2 separate regions of the Homo sapiens genome follow, and region 1 is linked to region 2. A link means that fine-mapping ties the variant in region 2 to the expression of a gene that starts in the linked region. Tissue or cell type: spleen. Region 2 holds a variant in brackets; the other region holds the start of a gene. All regions are shown on one strand. Distances are between the middles of the regions. Region 1 holds the start of MMRN1 (multimerin 1). Region 2 has its middle 21 kb from the start of MMRN1.

Region 1 (16,168 bases), 22 kb after region 2:
AATCAAATTCTTTCACGTTTTACCTATTAAAGATGTCTTTATTTCCCCTTTACTTTTGAAGGATATTTTTACAAGATATAGAATTATAAGTTGGCAAGTTATTTTTTTCCTTTGAGCACTTTAAAGATGTAATTCTATTGCTCTCTCTCATCTATCTGACTTAATGAAAAGTTAGCTATAATTGTGTTCCCCTTTATGTGATATGGCGTGTTTTTTTTTTTCCTGATAACTCATCAATTGTGTCTCATCAATTTTGGAAAATTCTTACCTATAAATCTTTAAAAAATTATCTTTTGTCCTATTTAGTCTCTCTTTTCTTCTTTATTCCCTCCATTTATAGGTGTGCTAAACCATATGAAATTGTTCCACAGATCTCGACACTGTGTATTTCGTTCACATATTCATCTTTTTTGTGTTTCAGTTTTGATAATCTCTTCTGACCTATTTTCAAGCTAACTGCTTATTTTCTTTGATATTTCCAGTATGCTATCAAGCTTATCAAATGACTTCTTCATTTTTGATATGTCTTATTCCTGGCATTTTCATTCAACTTTTTAAAAAATAATTTTTATCTCTGCTGAAATTCCCGTTCTGTTCAGACATGTTGCCCATCTTCAATACCACATTCTATCATAGTTATTTGAAATTCTCTCTCTTATACTTCCAATATCTTGGTGTTTTCTTGATTTTTTTAGGGTTTCTCTCTTGACCATGAATTACATTTTCTTATTTTTTATTTGTCTTACAATTTTTATTGTATGAGGCATTATGCTTAAAAGAATAATAAAGGCTATAGTAAATAATATTTACCTCAGAGAAGGACATTCTTATTCTGTTAGCCGTTTAGTGTAGGAGCTGAGTTATCCCAATTTGTAATTGAGCTAGGTCTAATATAAACCAAAATTGTTGTAGCATTAAGTTTTAACTCACCACGCTCTTAAAATACTTTGAGGACGTGATAAGGATTTTCCTTTCAACTAATTTTGAGATCTGAGCACAGGCAAAGCTCTGGAGAGCTCTTTATCCTTGACAATACAGAGAAAAAGCTCTCTGAACTGTGTGTGATACGAGGCCTAAAATTAAGACACAGAATTATGTGCCGTCTTGACATCTGAAACCAGAGGGCGTCGAGGGCCTTAACCCAAAAGTTTCCTTCCCCACTCTGCTCTTGTGGATAAGGTCCCCAGCCCAGTATCCACTGCCTTATCAAAGGGACCAGGCATAGTTCCTGCTTATCCCTGAGTAGTAGGTTTCAGTTCCCTGCCAGCCCACAGAATTATTCGAACAAGCCAGTCACATCCGCCTGTGGGAGCCAGGGGACACCTCATACTCTTGATATTACAAAGTCCGCCTTCTAGCATTGTTGATTGTTCACTGTATTCCCGAGTGCAGCCCTGGTGTGGCCCTGCGTGATGTGCTGTGCCCTCTTCCCCAGGGCTTTAGTTTATGTATAAACTGCTTCCAATCTCATCAATTCAACACTAGACATCATGTGTTCACCCATTCTTATAACCTTAGGGTGGGAATTCCTCCCTCACCAATGGGGTGAAGAGAGGATGATTAAAACACTACTTTACAATGAAAAATCTTCTTCTACTTGCAACGAAAAATCATTTTTAAAACAATCTCTAGTACATTCTCATTTCTTTCCAGACCCACCCCTGCATTTCTATACCTTGGAAGACATCTTTCCAACCTCTTGCCTTATCTCTAGCCTTTGGAGGACCTTTCCTCCAAAGTCACTCAGTGAAGACCTGCCATGCCTTGAAGCTACTGATTTTCATTCTTTTCTTTTCACTCAGCTTTTGGAGAGCCATGGCAGTGTACTCAGGCGAGGCTTCTTGATGAAGAAATTTCTGGCTCCTCTGTTGGCCTTCTCTGAGACTACCCCAACAGAAGAATGAGGGTTGGGACACCTTGTTATAACCTCATGAGGTGGAAGTTTAATTCTCCCTTCAGGCTTTGCTGGCAAGGGTGGGTTCTTTTGTCTTTTATTTTGCTTTTTTTTTTTTTTTTCCCCTGTGCTCTATGGTGGGAGTAGAGTGGTTATTTTCTAAAAACTTTCTCTTCTTTCCAGGCTGACAATTCTCTAGTCCTTGGCCTAAAGAGAGCTTTTATTGGGGCTTTTATTGTTTCTGCCCATTGGCGTTCCTAGTTTGCCAAATTCTCCAGTACCCAGAAATGAGGCAAAAGTAAACTTGGGAACTCAGTGCTTCATTGTTCCTTGGGTCACCTAGCCATTCTGCCTTCTTTTCTCCACTCTTCAGAGTCTTATTCTATTTTTTCTATATATAATGTCCATATTTTCAGATGTACTTAGCAGAAGGAATAGGGAGATATGTCTATTCCATATTTCCAGAAGTGGAAGTCACTAATGATAATCACTTGATAACCAGATACAGCTTTCCATTAAGAAAATGAAAATATGGTTATTTCTAAAATGATCAAAAGAAATGCGTTTTGAACTCTTTCACTTCAAGGGTACTGTTCTGCGTAAATGGGAAATATAAAATCAGCAATGACATGGTTTTGTGAACTATTCTTACATTCATTTTCTCATGAGGGGCATTTGGTCATCTTTATCAGTATGTTCCTTATGATCTTATAAAGTTAAAATTTTAATATTAGGACAAATATGTTGTTTTTTTTTCCTGATAAACTAATATGTTTCTCTCACTTAATATTAAGAATTATATAATTCATTAATTGTCCATCTTCCCTTTCCTGCCAGCCCACTCAAACCTAAATTTTCTTACTTCCAATTTATTTGCTTATCTTAAATTTTTCTAGCATCACTACTGCTTCATTATCTTTTATTCTACAACTCCCAGTCTTTGGTTTATTATTCTAATGTGGCTGTGACGGCTTCAAAATAAACCTTCTCATATTTATTTTGAGAATAGATAATATAGAAACAATGGGCTTTCTGAATTTTCTTTAGGAGTAACTTACAGGAGGCAATCTGACTGAATGGGTATTTCAGAAGACTTTTGAAGGTGTGTTCCCGGAACAAGTTCATTATATTTATTTAGATTACTTTTTTTTTCTTTTGTGTGGCTATAATAATGTGAAATAGAGCCCTCTTCAACCCATTTGTTATCACTATACATAGGAGTATGGTCATAGCTTCATCTATTCGTTCACTGATTCAACAAATATTTACCGAATACCTATTGAATCAGGATTGGGCATAAATATCTGTTCTAACAATTACTAATGTGTTACCCTAGGAAGTTATTTAACTTCTTTAAGTTTAACTTCCCATGAGTATAACAAGAATAGAATACTTACCTAACATGTTTGTAAGAATTAAATAATATGCCAAATTTAACTTACCTAGCACATCGACTCATCAAAATCATGCAGAAATCAGTTTCTCTTCTTCTCCAGCCCTTTTGCTGTATGTTGATAACCCCCTTTGTCCACATGTAAATTTGACAGGTTTTCAATATTTTTCAAACACCATTAAATTGAAAAAGCTCTAAAATTTGTTTTCTTCTATTATTTTTTGACAGATATGTCTTATGGAGGAAGGTAATAATGAAATCATATTTTGGATGTTTTAAACTATTTTAAGAAAATAGGAATTTCTCATGTGAAAAATGAAGAAAACAGCTGCTGAAAAATCCTATTAATCTGGTGGAAGTTAGCCCATACCCCCAACATTTTACAAAGAATAAGTCTTGCAGCTATAAAAATGCTTTGAATAGTACACAGCACCATCTACAGTGAACTCCTCAATCTAAGATTCTCTTTTAACTCACATTTATATTTTCTTTTAACTTAATAATCTTTTTTTGTTTTTTTTTCTTGTGGTTAGAAAATTAATTCATATGCATTATAAGGTGGAAAAGAACCAAACCCATTATCTCATCACCTACAGACAACCCATGTTGCAGTATATAGTGAATCCTATGTTTATGATACAATGAAAAATGACATAAAAATCTCCTGATAACTCATAATATAATAAATTTCATGATTTTTATCTTATAAAATATTCATGGTGAACAAATGGCAAGATGGTAAAACATAATTTAATATGAACAACCAAGTGGGAAATGGGAGGTATAGCAAAATGACAGGGTCCAGTTATACAAAACTGATGATATAGTTTAATCCAACAATAGTATTTTAGTATCTAGTATCTAGTATAATAGTATCTAGAAGAATGAGTAAACTGAGTACTCTTCAGCCAGTCATCTCAGCAATATTATTTTTCTTAATTGTTATTTAATGAGTATTAATTAGTCTCAGAAAGAAGAATTTGAGACAAGGTCTCTGACAATTTCTGGAGTATTTTATACCTCTAATTAAGGGCTGATCCATATACCCAAAATCACTAAATGAGCTTGAGATTCTCTGGGGAGTTAAAGTGCAAGATGGCTTAGTAGATCAATAGTGAGATACAGAACCTTTAGCCTTTTGATTTCAGGGTCCCTTGTAAGCTAGGATAGGGGTGAGCAAAAGTCATTATTGGTCAATACCTTATAAGTGGTTAAATGAATTGCTTAGCTTTGTTCAGTTTTTATTATCATTGGATAACTATTTGTTATCAGTTATAGATCCAATGGGTGACATTTTACCACTAAAGTTCACTTGCCAGACCAGGTTTGAACAGTCTTTCAAACTGTAGAAGAAAACAAAAAATCAGTGAATGTCATTATTTTGGCAGTTTTGTAAATCTTCAAGACAGTCCATTCATCTATTTTTACTAAAGCTAGGAAAATTGGTGTAAAATTGAATATAAATAGGAACATTTTTCCTAAATTTTATGAAATTACTGCTCTTCCATAAGCCAAAGCTAGTTTCTTCTGTGTTTTCCAGATAAAGACACTGTAAAGCCTTTTTCTTTCTACTGAAAACCATGTTTGTATTGTGACAGTTGTGCAGTTTCATTGCTCTTTTGCTCTTTTTAGTAACTAATCGTTTCCTGGATTGTCTCTGCTGGACCTTTTTGCTCCTTTACTAAGGCAAGGTTTGTGGATTGTTCTGTGGTATATCTGAGAAACGGATGCTTTTTACTCCATATCAGAGTCGATTGGGGTTGCTGATGATTGTCTTAGTTTAAATAAATACTCTCTAGTAGGTCAACAATACACTTACGGAAATAAATGGCAAAGATTGAGGGAAGAAAAAAATATTAATCCCAAGTAGTTAGTAGCTCAAGGAAGAATTAGGCCTTATTTCAAATCCTGGTGCACTGTGTCCAGGAATAAGGACTAGAGAAAATATCTACAATAAAACATAACCAAGCAGGCATTAGATTTCCAATTCTCTAATTTTGAAAGACGGAACTTAATAATCTAATAACAAAAAATAAAATCTAATAATAGTTTAACAATCAATGACTGAATATTTAGCAAGAGCATAATGCCTGGCACAGAAGTTGACAGAAAAATGGGTTACACATGGATTTAGCTTCCAAATAACATAACAGACATTTAGCAAATTGACAGCAAAGAATATTTTTGTTTTCCTTATAATCCTAGCACATAAGAGAGTGCTTTGCACAGAATGAGGGGTTATGTAACTACTGAATTCATGAATACATAAATAAATGAATGAGTGAATGAATGAATGAACTATTATAACTTAGTTTGTATATCTATTTAAACAGACTGATATGAAATTTTATAGATAAGAGGTTAATTGAAATCTGAGGATCAGAGATTTGCTGGAGAAATTAAATGATAAATCTCATGAAACATCTCTACCAGAAAAAAACCCATAGAAAACTCAGATAAATCTGGTTCTCTGCTACCTACAACTGGCATAATTTTGTCCTACAGTAAATGTATAAAAGCATTCTATATGATCCCATTTTAATTTATTTTTATGTGACTCCATTTTTTCTTCATCTATCCCTTACTAGTAAAATATTGGTTACCCCCAACCATCAGACAATCGTGATTGGAAAATAAAGGAAGTAAAATTCTGATTATTTATTCCATTAGTGGGTATCTCTGGTAGAAGTTCCAGGAGCAAAATTTAAAGTGACTTCCTGGTATACCTGTCTAATTCAATTACTTATGCTTTCCTTTTCTGTTATTACTTATAATCATTGAGATTAAGTAATGATACAGCTGAAGTGTATTTATAAAAATAGAAAGATATACATGTATGTAGATAGATGTTTTATAATTCAGAGTATATGTACTATATGAAAGGATAGAGACACTGTAAACAAGCTTTTGATTATGTGTATGCATGTGGATATACACTTGAACAAAATGCAGCTTTCTGGATAGAGCACAGCAGATAAGTATCATAAAAACTTTTCTCAGTGTCTTTATGTAGTAGAACAAAATGTTAAAACTGTATTCAGCCTATATCAACAAAATTTTGCACTCTCTATCGTGAACCTGAAATTTCTCTTTGAAATCAGTGAAACGTGAAACCAGGGTGTGCTCAGGAAAAGAAAGTTACTTCATATTTTTTCATGGGTTTTCCTGATAATAATTGCCTGTGCTTTCCCATTTACCCTTAGCTTTGTCAGAGACCCTTCAGCACTTCCATAGAGCCATCCCACTAGAGGTCACAGATCACAAAAACCCTACAGAAACAGGAAACCGAACTTCCTGAGTACGCTACAAAACACAGAAACCTGTTTCCTCTACACATCTCAAACTGGCAAAACTCAGTCTTAGCAGATTCAGTGTGGAAGCAGCTATCAAAAAGGCCATAAGGATTTTGTCCCCAAATTTCACATGAGCTACCTTGCTTCAAACTACTGAGATGAAGGGGGCAAGATTATTTGTCCTTCTTTCTAGTTTATGGAGTGGGGGCATTGGGCTTAACAACAGTAAGCATTCTTGGACTATACCTGAGGATGGGAACTCTCAGAAGACTATGCCTTCTGCTTCAGTTCCTCCAAATAAAATACAAAGTTTGCAAATACTGCCAACCACTCGGGTCATGTCGGCGGAGATAGCTACAACTCCAGAGGCAAGAACTTCTGAAGACAGTCTTCTTAAATCAACACTGCCTCCCTCAGAAACAAGTGCACCTGCTGAGGGTGTGAGAAATCAAACTCTCACATCCACAGAGAAAGCAGAAGGAGTGGTCAAGTTACAGAATCTTACCCTCCCAACCAACGCTAGCATCAAGTTCAATCCTGGAGCAGAATCAGTGGTCCTTTCCAATTCTACACTGAAATTTCTTCAGAGCTTTGCCAGAAAGTCAAATGAACAAGCAACTTCTCTAAACACAGTTGGAGGCACTGGAGGCATTGGAGGCGTTGGAGGCACTGGAGGCGTGGGAAATCGAGCCCCACGGGAAACATACCTCAGCCGGGGTGACAGCAGTTCCAGCCAAAGAACTGACTACCAAAAATCAAATTTCGAAACAACTAGAGGAAAGTAAGAAATCTTCTTTTCTTTTTGTTCTTTCTCTGTCTATCAGGTCTAGAAGATTGCAAGTGAAATTTACCTCACTCCCAGAAAATTATTTCAAATTCAAGATGAAATTGGATCATATTTATAATTTCACCATTTCAGTTAGATAAAGTTATTGTTAATTTATCTAATAGGGAAAAATGAAGAAATAAAATGCAGCAATTTTGTTTTAACTGAAATAATCATTCACTTTTCTACTCACTTATAGAGGTAGTTTTACTTAGAATAGTCATTGCCAAGCAAACTAGCACCACGGTGGCTGTTAGTTTAATTCAAGGATATGTTGATTGTGTTCCCAACCATATTCACAATATGAAAGACAAAAATAAACAAATAAATAAAATTGGGGCTTGAACAGATGTGAAAATTGGAATAGCAGTATTATAAAAAGTAACAGTTGTCAAAGATCGAAACAAGCACACCAGGGGTGCAATCCTGGCTTCAGTATGGTCTAGTTCCATGATTTTGAGCAACTCAGTTGATGTCTGTGAACCTCAGTTTCTTCATATGGAAACTACAGATTTAATACAAGGAATGTCAATAAAAATAAAACTTTGCAGGGTTCTCGTTCAGATAAAAATGAATGAAAAGTGCTTAGATGCATGCTCCTCACAGAATAGGTGCTCAACAACTCAAATTTTGCTAGTACCATGATTATTTTGAGTTGTGTTGCCATCATGAATATGATGAATCAGAAAACTTATTTTTCAAATTAATTTTAATTTAAAGTTAGAGCAATTTGAGTGGTTGAAATAAAATAAAACAAATTTAAAGGAGTGTTGTTAAAGAGGGTTTTCAAAAGAAGTGATAGTCAAATCAAAATAAACAAAGAAAAAATATCTGGGTGGGTCAATATTTTATTCATTTAATGCTCAGAGTCATCTGTATGTTTGGAATACTAGAAGTTTAGTATTGCAAAACTAAACTTACAAATAGTTTTTACATGTAATAATACAAAGTCAAGACACCAGACATGTCTTGGGAGCAAAATGGGGTTAAATATCTTACTAATAATAAAATAAAATCCAAGTTAAAAATAGAAGTTGACACACCTGCTATGTGAAAGACATTTAGTTAAAGCTGTTGCTGATATAAAGGTGAGAAGAAGAGAGACACTGGTAAGAATTCTAGCCAATGAATTTACTTATTTCTGTATTATTTATTATTCAAGTCTATTTTTCACTATATTTCAAAAGTTATAGAATTTTTCGAAATATATAAGTAAATCTGATTGTAACTAAAAAAGTATTCACTTGGTGGACTTTGGAACAATCCCAGCTTACTGTAAAACAAATAGTACAGATTACAATATGTTCACTTTGGGACAAGTAGATTTGCCATTAAAAAAACATTTAACAGACATGCATTAATCTTTCTCACTTTGGGGGACAACAGGATTTTATCTATTAAATAATCAGAAATGTCATTTATTGACAGCTTTTTCTAAATCACTTGAATGCATCATTTCTGTTAATCATATTTTATTAGAGGCTGTAATTAAATTTTTAAAAACTAATTACAGTAAAACCCTTGGACATTCATGGGAAACGATTGTGAGCTTTTCAGAGATGCTATAGCTAAGAATTTTTTTTTTTTTGAGACGGAGTCTCGCTCTCTTGCCAGGCTGGAGTGCAGTGGCACAATCTCGGCTCACTGCAATCTTCGACTCCCAGGTTCAAGCGATTCTCTTGCCTCAGCCTTCTGAGTAGCTGGGACTACAGGTGGTGTGCCATCACACCCAGCTAATTTTTGTATTTTTAGTAGAGATGGGGTTTCACCATGTTGGCCAGGGTGGTCTTGATCTCTTGACCTCATGATCCACCCACCTCAGCCTCCCAAAGTGCTGGGATTACAGGCGTGAGCCACCGCACCCAGCCAGAATTTTTTAATAGAAAGGGAAATATAATAAACAGAAAAAAGAGACAATTCAAGTTAAAATAGCATTTAAATTTTACATACCATATAGAAAGTGGCATACAGTTGTGTCATAATTAGAACTAGTAACTAATAGTTTGATAAATACTAGTTTTTAAATAAATGCTAGTTGTGTTATCCAAGGTCCTTGCTTTCAAATGTTGGGAACAATTTGATGAATATTTATAATTTGCCCATCATGTGCTAGCACTGTGCTAGGCTTTGGGTTACACAGAATTTAAAAAAATAATAATAATTCCTCTGTCTAAGGAATATTCCCTATAAAAAGTAAACACTAACATACCTATCAGACTTCAAAAAATGTTAATATGTGCTATGAGAAAACAAGATACTAAAGGTATAACTTGCTGAACAGAACTTTATCCTCTGGATTTTCTAACAAAAATAATCTTAAACTCCTTCTATAGAAAAGTACTAACTGCATGTAGGGATTCTCTTATTTGAGGTCCTGGAGAGCCTGAGGTTTTCTTTTAGTAATCCTTTCCATTACCAAGATTCCTTACTCATTAGGCCATGCAAATGACAATGGCATTAGAGAAAAGCCTAGGTCCTTCACTTTTGGACACAGTGCTGCTGCAAACCCTTGATATGGTCAAAAGAAGTCCTTCGTACTTTCATTTGATTGGCAAATAATAATAATAATAGTAGCAAACACTTATATGGCATCTGTTACTAGTACTCTACTATTGTCAGTGAATATATTCACTCATTTAATCATTACTATAACTCCATAAAGAAGAGGAAGATTTTTATCATTATTTCTTTACAGAGGGATTAAGTAGCTTACCTAAGGTCACTTGGCTAACAAAGCTCAGGGCAAAGACTCAAATCCAAGCTGGCTGGCTTTAGAGTTGTAGCTCTCAGCTCCTACATTACACTCCCTTGGCAGGTACAGTCTCTTATCACAAGTGGGAAGATAAGCGTGACCAGTTCACTTCCCAGCTCGTGAGGCTTCACAGGCTATTGGTTGCCTCCAGAATACAATCTAGATTTGTTACCCAGTTAGTCACACGATGCCATCCTAGATCTGCCTCCTGCCTACCTCCCCAACCTCATCTTCCGCCACTTCCGGCTATTCAAATAAGTGGTTCTCTGGTACAATATGTGCTGTTTGTTAAACCCACCTTTCTTCCCTGTCTGCCCCTGTGACTAACAATGGGCCCTCTTTTGCCATCGTTCTCTCTTTTCACACCTAATAATAACTCCAGGAAGCCTTCTCAGGTGAAGTTAGGTGGCCTTTCTAATCGCTCCTACAGGTCTCTTTGAATTCCCCTGTTCACTGCACTTACGACACTACATAATAATCATAATGAATTTGTAGTATCTTTGCATATAGGGACTTATTTTCAGAGCTAGCAAAGTCTCTGGTTTATAGCAGGTACACAATCAATATTTAATCATACTGAATGTGAAATATGAGGATTAATATGTGAATATAAAGAAGAAAGCTTCCCAAATATTTGCATTTGTTTATGAAAAAAACCTGGTTGATTTAGAATAAACTCATATTTGTTCTTTTTTCTACCATTCTTGGAATTTTATAATAATTCTTAGTAAAAGGCGTATTTATGTTTATTACAGGTTCTTTTCTAGATTATTCAGGATTATTCTGGCATATTTTTGTTTCATCTTGTAGTTTTTCTTCTTTTTTTTTTTAGCCTTGCAGGAACTCCTGGCCAAAATAGACCTATGGTTTCCTGTCTGGCAGAGTGGGTGTTAGTCAATGACCAAGCACTTTGAAATAGGAAGGATGGAAATAAGAAATTAGGATTAGTGTATTTATATGTTGAACAAATATTTGCTGAACACCTTATCTGTCCCAAGCACTGTGCTTGTGCTGGGAGTAAAACAATGAACAAGAACTCCTACATGTCCTGCCTTATGGAACCAACAGCCCAGTGGCAGAGGTGAGAGGAGGAATAACAGTGAATCACAAATGCTGATTCTGAATGAAGCTTAAGAAATTGTAGTGTATAATGGGGGGAATGGCCTACCAATTGTGAATGGGGTCAGTAAACCTTGCCTGAGAGGATAATAGGTGAAATGAGGTAATGATACAATCTAACTGCCTACTTAGCTTTTCCCACAATTCCCAACCCCTGTACACATGTATCTTAATTTTTACCAAATCAGTGAATGGCTAGTTCCATAACTAGAAACCTTGGATAGATCTTTGGCATTTTTCTCTCCCTTCTGGTTTTTATCTAATCTATCAAAAAGTCTTGTTACACCTCTAATACATCCCAAATACCTCAACTTCTCTCCATCTTCTACTTGCCGTTATTCACCACTAGTGTTCTAATTGGTCCACTTCTTTCCACTCTTGTCTACCATAATCCATGATCCACAAAAGGGAGGGATCTTTTGAACATTTAAGTCAGATTAATGCATTTCACTGGATTAAGTCTTCATTATTGTAAGTGACACATTATTTTAGGTACTAATCAGAAGGAAAAGTATGACATCATACTTGCTTAATTTGAATTTTTAGATTTGTCTTTCAGACTTTGAGATTTTGGTCACATATCACTTTTGCAAACTTAAGAAGGAAATGTAAATGAAACTGGTAAAGTATTTCGAAGGCAATGGCAACAACTGCTATCTGACCACTAGTGACTGAAAAATGCCTTTGATTTCAAGACACATTCTTGATTTCAGAGATGTATGTCTTAAAATGTGTGAAATTTGGTCTTTCATTCATTGTCACACTCCAAGATCACTGCACTTCATTTCCTCCAGCCACACTGGCTTCCTTTCTGTTTATTGAACATGTCAAGTTAATATCTCAAAGGAAACTTTTTTTGCTCTTGCTGGAATGCTCTTTCTGCACCTTTTATAATGAAGGACTCCTCTTCCACTTGCACCTCCAGCTTTAATGTCACCTCTTCAAAGGGACCTTCTCTTACCACCCAATGTAAAGTTAACTATGCTCTCACTTGCCATTCCTTATTTTGTCACCTTTATTTTTTTCTTTGTAGGAATTATTTGAAATTATTCTACTTATATAGACAATGGTGTATTTTATGTCTTTCCGCAATACATCCCATGAAAACAGGGACCTTGCCTGTCTTATTACTACTCTATTTGCTGCCTAGAACAGTGCCAGGTGCATAGAAAGAGCTCAATAAAACTCTGTAAAATCATGGATTATTAGATGGGTTTGGCATCCAGAGGGGAGATCAAGGCTAGAGATATAAATTTGGCAAAGCATTGGTATATAGAAATGTATTAAGTCATGAATGTGGATGATACTGAAAGAAAGAAGGACCTTGAATTATGAACGGAGAATCTCTAATATTTGATGAACTGATAGTGGTGGATGCCAACAATACAGTCTTAAATGGGGTGACCAGAGAAGTTAGGAAGGAATCTATAAAAGTGTGGTGTCATAGAGCAAAGGAAGAAAATATTTTAAGAAGGAGGTAAGTGATCAACAGTGTGAAATGCTGCTGAAAAAGACAAAATGAGGACTGAAAAATAGCCACTATTTCAGTTTAGTGAGCACCATGCTCTGGCCTGAGAGAATTGAGGTATGAAGGAAGGCAAAAGAGAGCCATTAAAGCCAACTCAATTAAGGAGGGCTTTTATGAAAAAAAAAAAAAAAAAAGGAGAAAGTGGTCAGAAGCCAAGGCTAGTCCAGTTATTTATGTTTTGTGTTTGTTTCTTATAATATTTCATTTTAAATACAGAGGGCTCATACATATGTTAACATGTTAATGAGAAGGGTCAGAGGAAGGTAAAATTTGAATATGCAGAAAAAGAGGGATTTTTTTTCTGAGTTTAATGACAAATTAGAAAATTAGAAATTATTATTTCTGAGTTTAATGACAAATTAGAAAATTATTCTGAGTTTAATGACAAATTAGAAAATTACAAAAATTAACCATTAAATTCTGCTGTCATACTTTTTTTCTGCTCATTTTGTGTGAATTATGAATAGGTTTTAGAAGTGAATTATCTGATCAGCTAAATTCTTGTGTTGTTTTCAAAGTTATTATTAGGCCTAATAACATCCAAAATGGGTTATTCTTACATGCTGTTAAATTCTAAAGAGAAACCATTATACTAAAGGGTATTTTCTTATATCTTTGTGAAATAGATGTCTCTATTACATTACTGCCAGTGAAATAAACACTACATAAAGTATATTCTCTATCAACTTTTACCCATTAATCACATTCTTTATTTCATTACTTTGCTGTTTCTACTCTGTTACTATAAATATATATTGCATTTCATATGCTAGAATTTAATGAGTGCTTATATATTCCTAATAATTAAGTGGGAACTTTTTGTATTCGCACAACTTCTGCTTTTCTGAATATAAAACTATAATTTTAAATTTATTATTTGGGGGTAAATGCTAAGAGAGTCAGTTTACAGGAACTGGATTAAGCATAGAATTCTGCATCACGGCATCCGTTAGCCTGCCTTTGTGGTCTGCACGCTGGGAAAGCCTGACACCTACTGGAATAGAAACAGTTTACAACGCCCGGAATATGCTCAAGTCACAGTTTTGCAAGGAAGGGGGAAACAAAAAATAAAATTAGGTAAAAAAGAGTATGTTCAATTCCCACAGGAAGGGGAATATCACACTCTGGGGACTGTGGTGGGGTAGGGGGAGGGGGGAGGGATAGCATTGGGAGATATATCTAATGCTAGATGACAAGTTAGTGGGTGCAGCGCACCAGCATGGCACATGTATACATATGTAACTAACCTGCACAATGTGCACATGTACCCTAAAACTTAAAGTATAATAAAAAAAATAAATAAATAAGTTATAGAAGAGAAAAAAAACAAATTTATGGAAAAGGTTATATTAAAGGTTGACTTTAAGAATCATTACTTATAAAATATATATGTTATACATATTTAATTCGATGTACCACTTTAAAAATATACTACTTTTCACTTTAAAATTGGAAAATAGGTTGGATCCAAACAGCAAACTCTATGTACATCCTGTGATGGCCATACATTCGGCTCGTTCTCATAAAACTTTACACTGACAATATTGTGTATAGACAGTAATTTGTGGCTGTGAGGCACTCTACAGTCATCTATCATTGAAAACTCAATTACATTCACCACACTGTTCCCACTACAGAAAGCAAATAAAATTATGCCTGACAAAAATATTTTAATTGCAAAAGTTGGTACATAAAAAAGGGTTTCTTCTTAAAGTCTAAATTAACCATAAATCAAAGTATCTAAAATTCCCCATAATCTGAGCTTTGCATAATTGCTTTTCAAAAAATTATTTTAAATATCAATTTATTTATATGATTCTTTTACAAAACTGATATTTTTATCTCAGTTTGAATACTATATAAAATTTTGTAAAAGGATTAAGCATAGAAAGATACACTACAATAAAAGAACCACAAACATAAATTATTTTGTTGTTAGGAAATAAAACAATGATTTTCTTAAGGAAATAAATATTGAGATGAACTTGTCTTTTGGACTTTTAGCCAAAGCTAAATATCAAATGTCTAATGCTTTATTTAAATATAATTTACATATCAAGAATCTTTTCACTAAGTGTAAATTATTGCTTCCCATTTTTATTATCTTTTTTCATGTATATATTTCCCTTGAATTATTTTCTCATTTATGACTAGTGAACTACATGCAAATTATAGTCTTTCAAATTAATAATTTGATTAAAAACTTCTCTTTTTAGCTTGATTGGAAAAAATAAAGATTTCAATAAATAGATTCTATAACACTTTGGAAGTATTTATGTTCATGACTTCTTAAGACTGTAGAGACATTCTGAAAGTTTTTTTTTTTTTCCTGAGAGGCAAGCTTCATCTGAATTGAACATAAATGATGATGATGGTCTTCTGTATTGGCTTTATGGAAATTATTGACTTGAAACATACAAGCAATTATGGTTAAGATGAATTTATCAGGTCATTAAAGAAGCAAAACAGGAGCTGTGTTTCTTTGTATCTGAGGCAAAAAAATATTGAGGCCATATTATATATATCCTCTTCAAAAAAAATCCCGCTTAACTCTGAATCATTTAATTATTATAAGCAGTGATAGCAGCAAATATTTTACTTTTCTTAAAACATTTAGTCTCACGACAATCGTGTGAGGTAGATAATATTATTGTAGATGCTTCGTAGATGAGGTAGTCACTTTTGCCAGACAAAGTCATGGCTATAAATTGTGGAGTCAAGATCTAAAAGCAGGTAGCCTGGCTCCAGCGACGAACTATGTTATGGGAAATTTTTCAGGGAAATTTTTCTTTATTTTCTTTTGCTTATGCAGATGTGCCCACTGCCCCCACCCCTCACCCTTGCCTAATTCAGGATTAGAAAAAAAAAAAAAAAACTCTAGGCACAGAAATACACTCTCTTCTTTATTCACACCTATGTGTGCAGTTAAAAGGAGAATAAAAATCTTGTCCAGCAGGCAGAACTTCATCATCAGAAATGACCTTCTAATTCTGATCTACGAGGTGAAAAAAGCATGTATTGATGACAACTCTGATGTTGCCAGAAATGCCTCATTCCCCTCCTCCTCTCTTCTTTTCCCCTTTCCTGTTATTTTGTCCTATTTTTTCATCCTTTGCTCTATTTCTTACTTTTTCTTCTTCAACTCTCTCTGATTTTGACAAGAGATATGCAAAATTATTATTTTTCACTTTGTGTGGCATTTTTTTCAGTATGTATGTATTTATTTATTTTTATTGTGGTAAAATATACATTAAAAAATTTACCATTCTATCCGTCTTTAAATGTACAGTTCTGTGGCTTTAAGTAGGTTCACATTGTTTTGCAGTCATCACTGCCATCTATTTCTGGAACGTTTTCATCTTC
Region 2 (16,168 bases):
GTTCTCATTGTTCAACTCCCTCTTATAAGTGAGAACACGTGGTGTTTGGTTTTCTGTTCTTGTGTTAGTTTGCTGAGAATGATGGTTTCCAGCTTCATCCATGTCCCTGCAAAGGACACGAACTCATCCTTTTTTATGGCTGCATAGTATTCCATGGTGAATATGAGCCACATTTTCTTTATCCAGTCTAATATTGATGGTCATTTGGGTTGGTTCCAAGTCTTTGCTTTTGTGAATAGTGCCACAATAAACATAGGTGTGCATGTGTCTTTATAGTAGCATGATTTATAATCCTTTTGGTATATACCCAGTAATGGGATGGCTGGGTCAAATGTTATTTCTGATTCAAGATCCTTGAGGAATTGCCACACTGTCTTCCACAATGGTTGAATTAATTTACACTCCCACCAACAGTGTAAAAGCATTCCTATTTCTCCACATCCACTCCAGCATCTGTTGTTTCCTGATTTTTTTTTATTGTTTTGAGACAGAGTCTCGCTCTGTTGCCCCAGCTGTAGTGCAGTGGCATGATCTCTGCTCACTGCAAGCTCCGCCTCCCAGGTTCACGTCATTCTGTTGCCTCAGTTTCCCGAGTAGCTGGGACTACAGGTGCCTGCCACCACGCCTGGCTAATTTTTTTGTATTTTTTTTTTTTAGTAGAGATGGAGTTTCACCGTACTAGCCAGGATGGTCTTGATCTCCTGACCTCGTGATCCGCCCACCTCGGCCTCCCAAAGTGCTGGGATTACAGACGTGAGCCACCGCGCCAGGCCATTTCCTGACTTTTTAATGATTGCCATTCTAACTGGCGTGAGATGGTATCTCATTGTGGTTTTGATTTGCATTTCTCTAATGACCAGTGATGATGAGCTTTTTTTCATATGTTTGTTGGGTGCACAAATGTCTGCTATTGAGAAATGTCTGTTCATATCCTTCGTCCACTTTTGGATGGGGTTATTTTTTCTTGTAAATTTGTTTAAGTTCTTTGTAGATTCTGGATATTAGCTCTTTGTCAGATGAATAGATTGCAAAAATTTTCTCCCATTCTGTAGGTTGCCTATTCACTCTGATGATAGTTTCTTTTGCTGTGCAGAAACTCTTCAGTTTAATTAGAGCTCATTTGTCAAATTTGGCCATTGCTTTTGATGTTTTAGTCATGAAGGCTTTGCCCATGCCTATGTCCTGAATGGTATTGCCTAGGTTTTCTTCTAAGGTTATTATGGTTTTAGGTCTTATGTTTAAGTCTTTAATCCGTCTTGAGTTAATTTTTGTATAAGGCGTAAGGAAGAGGTCCAGTTTCAGTTTTGTGCATATGGCTAGCCAGTTTTCCCAACACCATTTATTAAATAGGGAATCCTTTCCCCATTGCCTGTTTTTGTCAGGTTTGTCAAAGATCAGATGGTTGTGGATGTATGGTCTTATTTCTGAGGCATCTGTTCTGTTCCATTGGTCTATATATTTGTTTTGGTACCAGTACCATGCTGTTTTGGTTACTGTAGCCTTGTAGTATAGTCTGAAGTCAGGTAGTGTGGTGCCTCCAGCTTTGCTCTTTTTGCTTAGGATTGTCTTGGCTATGTGGGCTCTTTTTTGGTTCCATATGAAATTTAAAGCAGTTTACAAAAAAACTCATAATGTTTTAAGAAAGTTTACAAATTTATGTTGGGCCACATTCAACCTACTGTGGGTTGGACAAGCTTGCCTTAGACACTCCTTAGTTTTATATTGGTTTGTTTTTGAGAACATCATGACATCCGAAGGTAATTAATGAAACCCTAGAGTTTTGCACAACCAAGAATGGAAAGTGACTACTACTTAAGGCTTTTGTTTTTCAGTCTTGGGAAAATAGAGTTAAACTTACTCTCACTGTTACTAAATTAAAAGAGCAATTGTATATTGCTCATAGTACCCTCAAAATAATTGAATAATCCATTTATCTAAGTTCAGAAGAGAAATAAAAATAGCGAACATATAAACTGAAGTAGGGGGCTCTTCCAAGCTACACATAAAGAGATATCCTAAAGTGGAAAAAATATTAAGTGAGATTAAAATGAGTTAGTTATATTCCATATCTATTTTGTCAAGCAAAATAAGAATTTGAAAGGATTGATGTAGGAAAAATGGAAAAGGATAAATTATTAATACTTTGCTAAGTAAGGAGAACAAAGGTATGTGATAAATTACTCTTGAGTGATAAAGAAGACATTAGAGAGAAAAAGTTTGAATTTTTTTTAAAGAAAAAAGATATAAAGAAGAGAAATGGGATAATGAGAGATCAAGAATATTTTAGGCTAAATTTCTAGAAGGTTGTTCTAAGAAAGAATACTTGATACAACAGACTGGTATTTCACTAGGATTGCTGAGAGTAGGATATAAGAGAACACATAGATAAATAAATGGTTGAAATTGGCAACTTTACCTCCAGCCTTACTTGGCAGTTATGGAGTGAACCAGAATAGGGGAGTCATGGAGATAAAGTTGCTGACTGTAGGCACTCCTGCCAAAGAACTCATGCCCATAGCAAAATTCTACAATAAATGAGTCTGCTTTTCCTATACCAGACTGGGGCATTTATTTTCTGTGAGAACAAAACCATTTTTAAAAATCATTCTTCCTTCTCAGCTCTGTCTCCAAATGTCCTACCCTGACTATAGTTCTTGAGGGAAAGAAAAAAAACCAAATTGATCATTTTATTATTTGACCTGATTTGCATTTTAAGTTCTATGTGACTGTCAGATATTGGGCTTCCCAGAGGCTACTCAGTTCTAGTGTAGTCCAGGTCAGCCTCTTCCCTCACAGAACATCCTTATCTCTACTGATGCTCAGAAGAGAATATCCTAGTTGTAAAGTGGAGAATTCAGTTGCTATTGGTGTAAATCAATTATGAGCATTGATTTCATTTGTTTTGATGTTAATACTTCTAAAATTTGATCAAACAGCTTTTTAACTACCATCAAGTGTTAATTTTGAAAAAGCAGTATTTTATTCAAGATCCTACAAATATTGTTCTTCAAGATTGAATGCCAGTAAAGGCTGTAATTCTATAATTTGATCTACTTGTGTTTCTGAAGCTAAGACAGTTATTATGACTTTCTTTAATTTTAAAAAAGGGAGAAAAATAGAAAAAATTTTTAGTAAATCTAGAATTTGATAGTGCCATCTGTTGTTTAGAAACAAAATTGCATGCCCTTAAAAGCTACAATTTCTTTCTCTACTAATTTTCAAGAAAAGGTTAAGACTAATTTTGTCCATGTTCTCAATTTATTCAAGAGAAAAAGTTACAAAGCTTTGTTCATGCTGTATTTCCACATACAAAGGCGTTTGTCATCTCTTTTATACTGATTAACATGTAGAATCTTGAAATTGTTATAAATATGACGTATTTGCCTAAAAATTAGCAACTATTAAAAATATGCCTAGTTCAGATTATGCTTTAAAATAATAAGTAAAATAATAGATATCAGAGATAAAGATACTTTCAGTTTTGAAAGATAATGCACCTTAATTTACATTCCATTGTTAAGATAAGAGTGGCTTTTAGTTCCAAATAATGAAGATAATTCTAGATTCACTAAAAAAATTTTCCTATTCTTCTTTCTTTTTTAATTAAAAAAAGTCATTCTTAGCCTCAGAAACACAAGTAGATTAAATTCAACTATGAGTAAACATGTGACTATGGCAACACATAAATATATATCTTACACTTGGAGGAATAAAATTAATATTTCAAAATATTTAACTTATGATAATGTGAATTTTATAATTTCTTCTCTTTAAATACACCTAATGTTTCAAATGTTTTATGTAATTAATCTTACAGATACAGGGAAAAGTAAAAGAATACCTTTATTAAGAAGAAGCAAGCCACACCCCCATCGCACGCCCTGGCAAGGGGGACAAGGGAACATTTCCCATTACATTTACAAGGAAAAAAGATAGTTCAAATTACACATGATTGGTTTTTGTGATCAATTTACTACTAAAAATTTTAAGTGTTTACTTCAGTGTTTAAAAAAACAATTCTATAATAGGCTTTGTAATTTCAAAGAAATATGTTGAACTTTATTTTATTTTTTTCATAATAAGCTAATATATTGCATATACACATTATTTATTGCTTCATCTCTGTCACTGTTTCTCCACAGTTTGTCAAACAGATTTGTTGGTATAATAAAATTGTTAACACACTAACAGATAAAAGGAAATTCAGGAAAGTTCTGAACAATTTAAGTTTGCAATGTTACAGAAGGATCCTTAGCCTGGGTTACATTTCAGACCACTTTCTTAATGCTGTTGTTCACAGAAGTAGTTTAACATTTCATAGTAGCTTATTTCAACTTAGTTTGAGGCAGTGTTTTCCAATGTTATTAAATTTACACGTGAAATTGTAAACTCCTTTTTAGAATTAGATTGTCCTCTGTAGTCATTCTAAGGGTAATTTTAAATTGTATGCTTTTGTAAAGTTCTTATACTTTACAATAAGTAGTATAATATTACTCGAAGGTAAGCAGTAATAAGTTAAAGATGGACACTATAAACCCTACAGAAACTAAAATGAGTCTATAAAGAGTTATAGCTAATAAGCCAACAAAGGAGAATCATAAGTAGTATCATAAAATATACTCTATTAATGCAAAAGAAGGTAGGAAAAGAAAAAAAGAGGAGAGGCAAAGAACGGTTAGGACAAATATAAGACAACAAGACAGGAGGCTTAAATTCAACATGTAACAATCACACTAAATGTAAAAGTCTAAACACTGCAATTAAAAAGCACGCAATATCAGGTTAGATAAAACAGTAAAACCCAACTACGTGCTGTCTACGGTAAATCCAATTTAAATATAAAAACATAATTAGGTTACAAGTAAAGAGATGGAATAAGATATTCTATGCGAACATTTATCATAGAAAGGTGGAATGGACATATTAAATATAAGACAATGCAGATTTCATATCAAAGACTATTACCAGTGATACAGAAGATGATTTCATAATGATAAAGTGTTCAATTAATGAAGAGGACATAATAATCTAAAATGTTTATGCACTGTATCAGTTTTGTTTTGTTGCATAACCAATTACCAGAAGCTTAATGTCTTTAGAAGACACCCATTTATCAGCTCACAGTTCTGTGGCTCAGAAGCCTCAACATAACATTTTCGATTCAGTTTCAAAAGGTAAAATCAATGTGGCAGCTAGACTGTATTCTAGTCTGGATTTCAGGAGCCTCTTCCAAGCCCGCATGCTGTGACAGAATTCAATTTCTTGCAGTTATAGAACTGAGGTCTCCATTCCTTCACTGGTTGTTAGCTGAAGGTCACTCAGCTCCTAGAGGTCAACTCTATTTTGCCACATGGCCCCCTCTGTTTTCAAAGCCAGGAACAAGGAATCCTTCTCACATGGAATTCTTCTAATACTTTGAATGTCTTTCACCAGAACCTTTGTCCCTTTTAAGGACTAACCTGATTAGGCCAGGTTCACTGAGGATAATCTCCAAGGATTATACAGGGCATGCACATCAGGGAGCAAGATCTTGGGGACCACCTTAGAATTCTGCCTATTCCAGGTATCTAATAACATGAAAATACAAGAAGCCAATACTAACAGAACTACGAAGAGTAATAGACAAATGTATGATTATAGTTACAGATTTCAACACACCTTAACAATATATGAAATAAGTGGACAGAAATTCAGTAAGGATATAAAAGACTTAAATAACACTATCAATCAACTTGATCTAATTGATATTTTTAGAACACTACACCTGATGTCAGCAGAATAAACAGTATTTTCAAATGTGTATTGGACATCTTACAAGATAGACCATATCCTGCACCAAAAAACAAGGCTCAAAAAATATTTTTAAATTCAACTCATACAATACATGTTCTCTGAACACAATGGAATTAAATTATAAATCTTATTTCATAGGATCATGTTGGTAGCCCACCAAAGTAGCCACAGAGGGAATATTTATACAGTGGAAATTGATCAGAACTGGTAAGTGATACACATCAGGCCTTCCCTCTCTCTGGCTATTTGTCACCTACGACAGGTTGCTAAAATTTTTCGAAGACATCATTGACGTTACTTACTAAGGAACTTTGTCTCAGCATCTAGGGATCATGAGTGGAGCCCCTTCAGTTTATATCTAACAAAACATAGGCCCAGTAACTTACCCCAAACACACTGCCAACTAGTCAAAAAGCAGTTTAGAAAACCAAAACAAGAGAGCTTTTTAAGTGACTAGTTATCTTCATTTAATATTTTTTTATTGTTGCTTCTTCTCTTTCCCTTCTATATCCCTTTTTTATTAAACATCTCTTACTAAGGAACTTTGTCTCTGTTTGATATTTATTGAAAGAGGTGCCTAAATAGATGAAGCAAAATTATAGGTGATGAAAATCTTGTCTCAGCATCTAGGTGTAAGACAACCCAAGCATACATTTAGGTGCACAATTTTGGAAAACAGTAAGACATTAAAAAATAAGGCTATTTCAGTCAGAGTTTAGGTCTATAAAATGCAAGATTACACATTTATACATTTTAAAAACAGAATAAGTATTCTGATTTCAGGTTTTAGAAATCAGGCTGGTCTCGAACTCATGAGCTCAAGTGATCTGCCTGCCTCGGCCTTTAAAGGAATTAATTTCTTAAACATAGAGTTTTGTTATAAAATTATAATTGACTTAAACATTAACACTATACATACTTCAGAACCTCACCGCCACTTCATCCTTTCTATCCATTTTCTAGCGCTTATTTGTCTAAAGTTCACCACCTCACCTGGTATATTCCAACATGGTCTCATCTTTCATCATATTCCCATTAAAACGTTCATCATTTCTTGATTGTCACAGAATCAACTATCTAAACTTTCATCATGAAGTATAAGAAAATAAAAGTTTAATTTTCCAAAAGGCTTATTTTAAAGCAGAACTTGTGAATCTAAATGAAATTTTAGGGTGTGAGAAGTTCTCTGAGATATTTTTGAACGAGGGAATATTTCTGCACTTTTTGGCCTATATGGGCTGTGAGTCACATTTGCAATGTTGCCTTTCTTCCCTCAATACCTTTTTTTCATTCTTTAAACCTTTGCCTAGTAACCACAAGCAGAAATATAGCTACTCTCTCATCTTTCAGAATCTGTCCTATTACTTTATTCAGCAAGTACTAGAAATATTGCTGTTACTAGAGCAGAAGTAAAATTCTGCCTTAACAGAGTTTACATTCTACTGAGGAGGGGGGCAAATAATATACACAATTAAAAGTAAATTGTGGCTGGGCGCAGTGGTTCATGCCTATAATCCCAGCACTTTGGGAGGCCGAGGCGGGCAGATCACTTGAGCTCATGAGTTCCAGACCAGCCTGAAATTAGCCAGGCATGGTGGTACACACCTGTTGTCCCAGCTATTGGGGAGGCTGAGGTGGGAGTATGGCTTAAGCCCGGGAGGCAGTTTGCAGTGAGCCAAGACAGCATCACTGCACTCCAGCCTGGGCGATAGAGCCAGACTTTGTGTCAAAAAAAAAAAAAAAAAGTAAATTGTGTAGTGTATTAGGCAATAATAAGCACTATATGAAAAATAAAGCAAGGAAACATATACAGAACATTAGGGGAGGGTGGTGGGTATTACTGTGTAAATAAAATAATCAGGGAAAAGCTCAATGAGGTAACAAATAAAGAAAGACTTGAAGGGGTGAGGGAGCAAGCCCTCTGGAAGAGCCCTGTGAAACCTGGGCAAGAGTGTTTCTGAGAGAAGAAACGGCCTCTGCAAGGGTCCTTAGGAAAGAGCCTCCAAAGCAGCCAGTGTGGAAGCCAAATGGATGGCATTTTCAAAACGACTGTCATATTTATTTTTTATGCATTTCCAAGCAATCAATTTTTCATAGATTTTGCCTATTTACTCAGTTCTCCATTTTAAAAATTTAGAAAAAAAGAAAATAATAAATTCCCATATACCCAATACCCAAATGAAAGTATCACAATTTTGACAAAATTGTGTTTTTAAATCTTTTTTCCTTTTGCTGAAGTATTTTAAAGAAATTCTATATCACTGGATTTCTGTTCTTCAGCATGCATCTCTAAATGTATAGCCATATTCTTATATATCTACAAAATTATCACATGGGACTAAATCAAATTATTCCTATTTATCTAATACTCAGTCCATAACTAAATTTTTCTGATTTTCTCAAAATGTCTTTTTGCAATTGATTTGTTTGAATCAACACCCAAATTTGATGGCATTTCTTAAAGTGAAATGACAATTTCACTGTATTTGTACTATTGCCTTAAGTGTATGCTATTTTAAAAATATTTTAATATTTCTTGAATATTAAATTAAGGAGATAATCGAGCAGTTAATTATAATTATAAATACTCTAAAATTGACACTATATATGACTTCAAATAAAGGTGCACAACCCAAATAATGCATTTGTATGATTTTTCTCATCATTATTATTAATAATACAACTAATTTGTTATACTATCATCTAAATCACATATCGGCAATTTTTTTTTAATCATAGAGGACTTAGCTCACATAGGTACAGCTTAGATGCACTTAAACATTATATGAAACAGCTAGAGAAAAGAAAATAGCAAAAGCAG[C/A]CCAGGTGATGATGACAGAGCACAGAAAATGAAAATGGTCCCAGCAGGAGTAAGTGGAGACCCAGTATTCTTTCAAATAAGCATTTGTTCAACCTATTACAATTAGTAATGTCAGGTCTTAGTTCCAACATTATTTCAACACGTTTACAAAGCAACATTTGATTCAGGCCACATGTACACTCAGTAATAAAATCTGTCAGGATTTTTACAAAGCCTTAAATGTTTTCTTTATATATTTCCCTAAAGGTTAAATAAGGTTTTCATAAAAATAAAAACTGTTCTCCTTTCTTAGTTCAAAATCAATGATAGCATTTCCTTCTTTTCATATATGTATTGAGTTTGGCTTTCCTTTATTAAACACTCTTCAATAGCAAATCACCTGATGTAAGGAGGGTAGAAAATGATTTGGTGCTGATCACGCCATTCATCAAATCCCAGAAAAATATGATTTTGTGTCATTTTCCAATGCACATTTCCAAACCCAAACTGAACAGAAGAGACTCAACTTTAATTAACCATCCTATCCTTCTATTCCAACAATCATATGCTTACTGATGGTGAATTTATCTGTCTCATTCAAATTTGAGAGAGAGATTTTTGGAAGATGATACTTGAAAATTCTGAGATATTCAAGTCACCATATAGTTTTCATAATAAAGGCAGATACCTGACTGGCGTTGGATTATAAAATTAATTTCCAGCATCTAGAATTGTTTTTTCACCTTTGCAGCATATGTACATATATACATATATATGCAATATTTTACATATAAATGTAAAATACTGATTTTTTTCCACTCTCATGGATATATGTTAATTATAAGGTTTTTAATATCTTTTTTTATGTTTTATATCTTTTTCTTGCCAGTAGTTCAGTATGGCAAAAGTATCCTTGAATTCTTTTTCATAAAGGTGTTCTATGGATTTTTTTCATAAATAAAATCTTTACTTTCAACTCATTTTTGTCTTAAATACAAAAATAAGTCATTATATCCACTCAAACATATATCTCAAATAGATGCTTTAATTCTCTCTCCTAAGCTAGAGCCTTTGCTTGGTAATATACAGAGACAGAGAGAAAATAGACATTACTGATAATGTTTTTATCTAACATTTATTAAATATTTTCTACATGGAAAGTCTTTTGCTAAATTCTGTGTTATTTTATTTACATTTTGTAATAATTCCATGAAGCAGGTATTACTGGCAGATGAGGCAAATGAAGATTGTAAAGTTAGATGAACTTGATTATCGATACTTTGCCAGTACTGCTACAGACAAAGAGACCACACCTCCATCTACCAAAAAAACTCAGTGTCCTAAACCAAAGTTTCATAATGTTCAATTCCAAGTTCAAATGTATTAGTACGTCTGTCTATACACCAGCAGAATTATAGAGTGTCTTAGAGTGTGACACTGGGAGTTGCATGTACAGTAATTCACATCATCTACCACAGCAAATAGCTAGCAATATCTGTCACCAGTGCTATAGGAGACAAAGAAGGAAATCAAAACATATGCACTGGACTCATGGAGGACCTTACATTCCAGTTACATTCCAAATCACTCTAATACAAGGTAGAATGAAGTGCTTATAGCACAATACAAATGAAGAGCTATGGGAGTTCAAGGTTACTTTTCACCACTCACTTAAATATTTATTAAGCACCTACTGTATGTAAAATATCATACCAGGCAGTATGATCAAACAAATGAACATGATAGATATGTTCCTTTGCCACTATGGAATTTAGTGATTCAAGTGGGGAGAATGATTGAAAACAAGTAATAAGTAAAGGAACAACTAATTGTGATATGTGGTAGGAAGGAAATGAGCAGTAAATGAATAATTGTGAAATATATTGTTTTTAAGGAGATATTTACAGAGAAGAGGGAGTTATATAAGCTGAGAATTAACCATGAGAAGGAAACAGCCATGGGGAGAAGGGAAGATAGATTTCTAGGCAGGGAGCAGAAAATGTTCAATTACTAAAAGGCAAGTTTGAGAACTGAAGAATGCCAGTGTGGCTGGGACCTAGTAGGCAAAGGAAATGGTGGGTGTGAAGATGCAATTGTAGTGGTAAGAAGACCACTTCGTGCCTGAGAATCTGAGCAATGTTTTAGACACAACGGGAAGATAAAAGTTTAACAAACACAGGAGCATACATACTCTGATTAACATTTTCCATAAATTACCCCTGGCTGCAGAAGAAAAAGTAATACTGAGAGATGTAAAAGGCTTCAGAAAAAAAGCCGGGTATGGTGACTCACACCTGTAATCCTAGCACTTTGGGAGGCCAAGGAGGGCGGATCACCTGAAGTCAGGAGTTCAAGACCAGCTTGGCCAACATGGTGAAACTCCATCTCTATTAAAAATAAAAAAAATTAGCTAGGGGTGGTGTAGGGCGCCTGTAATCCCAGCTACTCGGGAGGCTGAGGCAAGAGAATTGCTTGAACCCCGGAGGCGGAGGCTGCAGTGAGCCTAGATTGAGCCATTGCACTCCAGCCTGGGTGACAAGAGGGAAACTCCATCTCACACACAAAAAAGGGCTTCAGAATATGTGGCGTTACTTAGTTTTTGAGAACTGCTTTTAGCATTCGTTCAACAATTATTTATAAAACATAGAAATGTGCCACTTTCTAGAAATACAGTGATGGGATAAAAGACAACATTTCTTGCCTTCTGACGCTTACTTTTCCAAGCAGAGATTCTCTCTCTTTCTCTATACGTGCGTGCGTGCACACGCGTGCACACATACACACACACTCATTTGTAAAGATGAATGAATGAAAAGAAACCTCTGAAAACTTCCATAGCTCTTTATATTTTTTGTTCCTTGTTCTTTAAAATGCTTATTTCTTCCTATATTTTATTGGTGTTATTTAGTATGTGTGCACATATATATATATATGTGCATTCACACTACACATACACTAAATTATGTATGTATTCCATATGCTATATGTGTATATTATGTATATATATTTATATATTATATATGCTAAATATATAATTCTACAGATATTATATTACATATAATATACTGTGTATTAAATTATGCATTGCTGTTTTCATATTTTTTGTAATATTTTAGTAAAGATACGAATTTTACTCTAATAATTAGCACATGGTGAGCTCAATTTTGTCATGTCTGATACTGTGCCTCATGGCCACACAGTGCTCTCTGTTGAATTCTCAGACTTGTGTTTTATGTTGCTGTGAAATTACAGCAACATTAATAAAAATATAAAATGTATTAATAAAATACATTAAAATATGAACATAATTTTATATTTTATTTTGCTGGATAATTACTGTTATAAATATCTGCCTTTTTAAATTATGTGAAAATATATCCACCTAAGCATAATTTATTTTAAAAGGTAATGTTTAATCAAACATTAGTGTCAAAGCAAAAATATTTTGACTTATAACTCATTATTAATTTAGTCTACTTGTGATGGGATAATTTATTTATAAAGCAATTAAGAAGTTATGTACCCTGACTCTAAATAGGATAGGATAGGGCCACGTAGAGAAGAGCTGAACTCAATGCTGTTCATGAATTTGGTAAGTCATGTTTGCATGGAATTCTATGATAGAATTTGTATTATTTTATGAGAGAGATTTATGATAGTATGTTATGGTTCTACTCATTTTATAAAAGCAAAACAACTAGTGGAATGCCTGCTTCACTTTAAAAAAGAACACCATGTTCTAGTTTTTCTTTCCTCTGTATAGACTCTGTCTTGTCTCTCAAAAGTATAATATTTTAAAACTCGCTGAAATTTAGATACAGTGGCACTTCGGCCTTTCAAAAGGGTTCAAGCAGAGGGATCTGAATGTGCAAAGTCTGGAGACTTTTTCAGCAGTGAACAGCCTGGAGACTGTTTGTCAACAATGAACAATGTGCTTAGTCGGGAGTCTTAGCTGATCAGTGAAAAATCCATAAGAGAGCAAAATACATGTGGGGAAGAACTCAAACTTATGTCACAGCTTCCACCACTTTGAGCTACAAAAGCAAATAGGAAGTCACTTCAATTCAAGACATTTATCAATCACCTGTCATGTGCAAGATTGGACCTTTGGTATTAAAATGATGAACAAAAGCACAAGTCCCTCCCCACCACCAATTCGGAGAGGAAGGTCTGGTTACTCAACAGAAGAAATAGGACAAATGTTGCAACAGAGAAGGACTCTAAGTACAAGAGATTCAGCTCACTAGAGCTGACTGAAGTTTTCTTATGAAACAAACTCTGGCAACTCATTTTCCATCCACTTAAAGATGCTGTATAAGAAATTATAAAATATTTTAGCTAAGTCTTGGAGATTTTATCAATGACTTGTGGGTGACTATGAAATGCTCTCAGGAATGTAATCCAGGGTTGCAATAATCTTGTTAATCAAAAAGTTAGAGCAGGAGATTACCCCAGCTTCCATGTTTTTTTTGTTTAGTTTCTAAACTGGGTGGAATTAAACATTTAAATCTTAATGTATAAGATTTATCTATTAGGCCTATTTTCAGTACTGGCTGAAGTATTGTTAATCAAGAAGATATAATACCATCAATATTTTTGAGAAAATTATCTTAGCCGTAACATTATTCTGAACACTTTAATCATGGTGGCAGCTAAACCTTCAGGTTGTATAACACTTTTTAGTAAGAGCTCTAGGATCCTAGCTACACTGAAAGGACGTGAGGCAGGCTGGGGGTCAGTGCCCTCAGACATCTTAGTTTCTAGGTCCCTGGACTTCTGTTGCTAGGCATTCACTGAGAGAATAATGGCAGGGCTATTGTAAGGGTGGTTTTCTCCCCGCCCTCTTCAAACTTGTCTTTCTCTGCTTCTGAAAATAAGTGAATATTTGGAGACAGCCTACAGAGAGGCCAAGAGGTTTCTGCTTCTATTGATGTTAGCATTTGGTTATAACCACGGGCAAAGAATATTAAGGTAAGAGCTACCGATAATTTTTTAAATTAACATTTGCTTATTTTTGTAAGATAGAACTTTGTTAATGTTTCTTCAAATAAGATTACAGGTCTATTTCAAGTATTAGTAGTTTAGCTCTTTGTGTAACATACACTGTCTTTAAAAAAAAGCATAATTTTCCTTTATAATGGGCACTTAGAATGCAGTAAGAATGTGTAGAGAAAATGTTCTGGCAGAATTCAACAAGACATGTGAAAATAGCCTGAAGAAAAGCATTTATGTTGAAAACTGTTATCATGTTATTGTTTATGGCATTTTGATTGACAGACTGAATCCACTACTAAATCAACAAACTTTGTACTGTGGAACTGTTAATCTTTTGGACATGGTATGATGCTGGTTTTAATTTTACAGATATTCTGACTGCTCTGGGTATAGAAACCCTGGGGGAGGACAATTGGTGCACTTACAAATATAGCTGCCTGCTTTTCTTTTGAAGTCAAACTCTGGTTTAGCTGTTTACATGTTTTCTAATGTAGCAGAAATTGACTTCTTTGTGTCAACACAATTTCTAAGAATCTAAATTAAAACATGAAATCAGTTAAGTTGGGGGAGAAGGTTGAGTTTAAGCCCTAAAGTAAAAGGATTTGGGTTTAAATGGCAGTTCTGTCCCCTCTCAGCTGCCATATCTTGGGCAGTTACTTGACTGCTTGTTAAAATGGGGATTCTGAGTCACTATGTCACAAGAGTTTTAGAGAAATTAAAAAAGATATTATAGCTTATATGCCACTTAATAGAGTGCTTAGCACAAAATCAGTGCACAAAGAGTTAACCATTACCTACTATAATTACCTAAAGAAGGAAATCAGTATTAATCTGCCCTTCTATTGGCATCAGAAAATTCAGAAAATCTGCAAGTTGTCCAACAAGAATTTACAGAAAAGGTGAGTCACATAGAAGGCTCTGTGGTGCTTAGAGTAAGAATAACTTTGCCTTGAAGATCAAAGAAATTCAAGGATAGATGAGTCCAGTCCCTTCTCATGATGAGAGGAGAGAAAACATAATGGACATTTAAGAATTGATAAATTATAGCTTTGGTTTCTTATATAACATCTCTCCTTTTTACCAATATCTCGCTTTACATTGTATGGAACAGTCCTAGGCAGTGACCCATGTAATCATGGGAAGAAGAATACAGAGGAGATAACTGAGGCTTGGCAAGATCAAGGGATGTGTCTAAGACCACACCAGCAATCCCTGACAGCAGGGATGTTAAAAAACAGTCTCAGGCTTGATCCTCATATTTCTTTCTACACTGCACTGCATGTAATTCTAAAAGAAATGTTAAAGGGTTGAGAGGGAAGAAGTCCATAAAAATGTGAGAAAAACTATGTGCTTTCATAAAGTCGATAAATGTAATAACTATTGGGATTTAGTAGCAGAAGCACTGATAAATTAAGGGTAAGGCATTTGTTGGCTCCTTTAATGCAAATCTGCAGAATTGCTTTGCCTGTATTCACTGGAACTTTTTCAGTGACTAATTTCTTTAATTTAACCAATGATAACACAGTTTGCATACAGTAAGCTAAGCAACAAATTAACTGCCAGTGGAGGCAACTTCTTAATTTTATTGGGGCATATGCTAGCATCTAGTTAAGTTTAAATTCCAATCTGGCACATACTTACTTCAAAACTCAAACTACATTTGTAAATTTTAAGCAAATACATTTGTAACACATTTCTTAAATGTAGGACCTGCTTATTTTGAGGTGTTAAAGGACTCCAACAGAATGTGGCCGTTTTCTAGTCATGACATACAAAATCTCCACAAGTTGAGAATGAATGTTGTATGTACTTGTTTTGTTAAAAATGATTTCTTCTAACTGTAAAAGCAGGTGTTCTCATTTTGTATGAATTCTAATGTGTGTATAAAAGAATTATATGCCTTTTCATTTTCTTGTAAATGAAGGATGATAGAATATTATTGATATTAATTAAAGAATATTATTTAATATTCATTAAAGCCGTTTTGTGTTTGTCAAAGGTGCCCATGGTGAATGGAAGAAGTCTTTTCTAGTCAGTACTGTTACTACAGCTCTGGTATTGATTCATCTAGTATTGATTCATATTTTTGCCCAATTAAGTGCTGTACACCTGCTTCAATTCATTAATATATTGTTGCAAGTTGTGTACTGAATTCGCTTTGGTTGCACTACCTTTAAACTTATAGTTAGCCTTTCAGAGCTAAACAGTAATGAGTCTAGTGTAATAACGTATGCATTAACTATTATTGAAAATATTTCAGATGAATGTAAATTGCTTTCTGGGCTATTTTGTATTTTCACTTTGATCATAACACTTGTTTCCAATATCTATACCTTAAATTTATTACTAATGAAAGTTTGTCAGCAGCGGGGGTCTCTCTAAATTTAAGCTAAATAACCCTCTCAGAAAGATTACGTTAGTATTTTGGTGATGTTGATGTATCACAATCACATTCACTAGAATGACCATACGTCTTTAATTTAATTACTATGATATGGAGTGGGGGATATTGTTGTCTCTTAATTTTACTACCTTAAGTGGGTTTTGTCATGTAAAAAAGAGAATTTGGATTGCTATTCA

The links. PIP is the estimated chance that this variant, and not a neighbour inherited with it, causes the effect.
Region 1: MMRN1 starts here. The variant in region 2 is fine-mapped to the expression of MMRN1 in spleen (GTEx, PIP 0.99).

What each region holds. Positions count from the first base shown.
Region 1 is chr4:89,888,234-89,904,401 of GRCh38, forward strand. It overlaps MMRN1 (multimerin 1), which reads left to right and starts at 6,621. Exons shown (of 8, transcript NM_007351.3): 1 at 6,621-7,361. The coding sequence starts at 6,739. RefSeq lists a silencer at 10,072-10,272.
Region 2 is chr4:89,866,039-89,882,206 of GRCh38, forward strand. It overlaps a transcript of MMRN1 not described here. Among named protein-coding and RNA genes, the nearest start is that of MMRN1, 21 kb to the right of the region's middle. The variant C/A (reference allele first, on the strand shown) is at 8,615.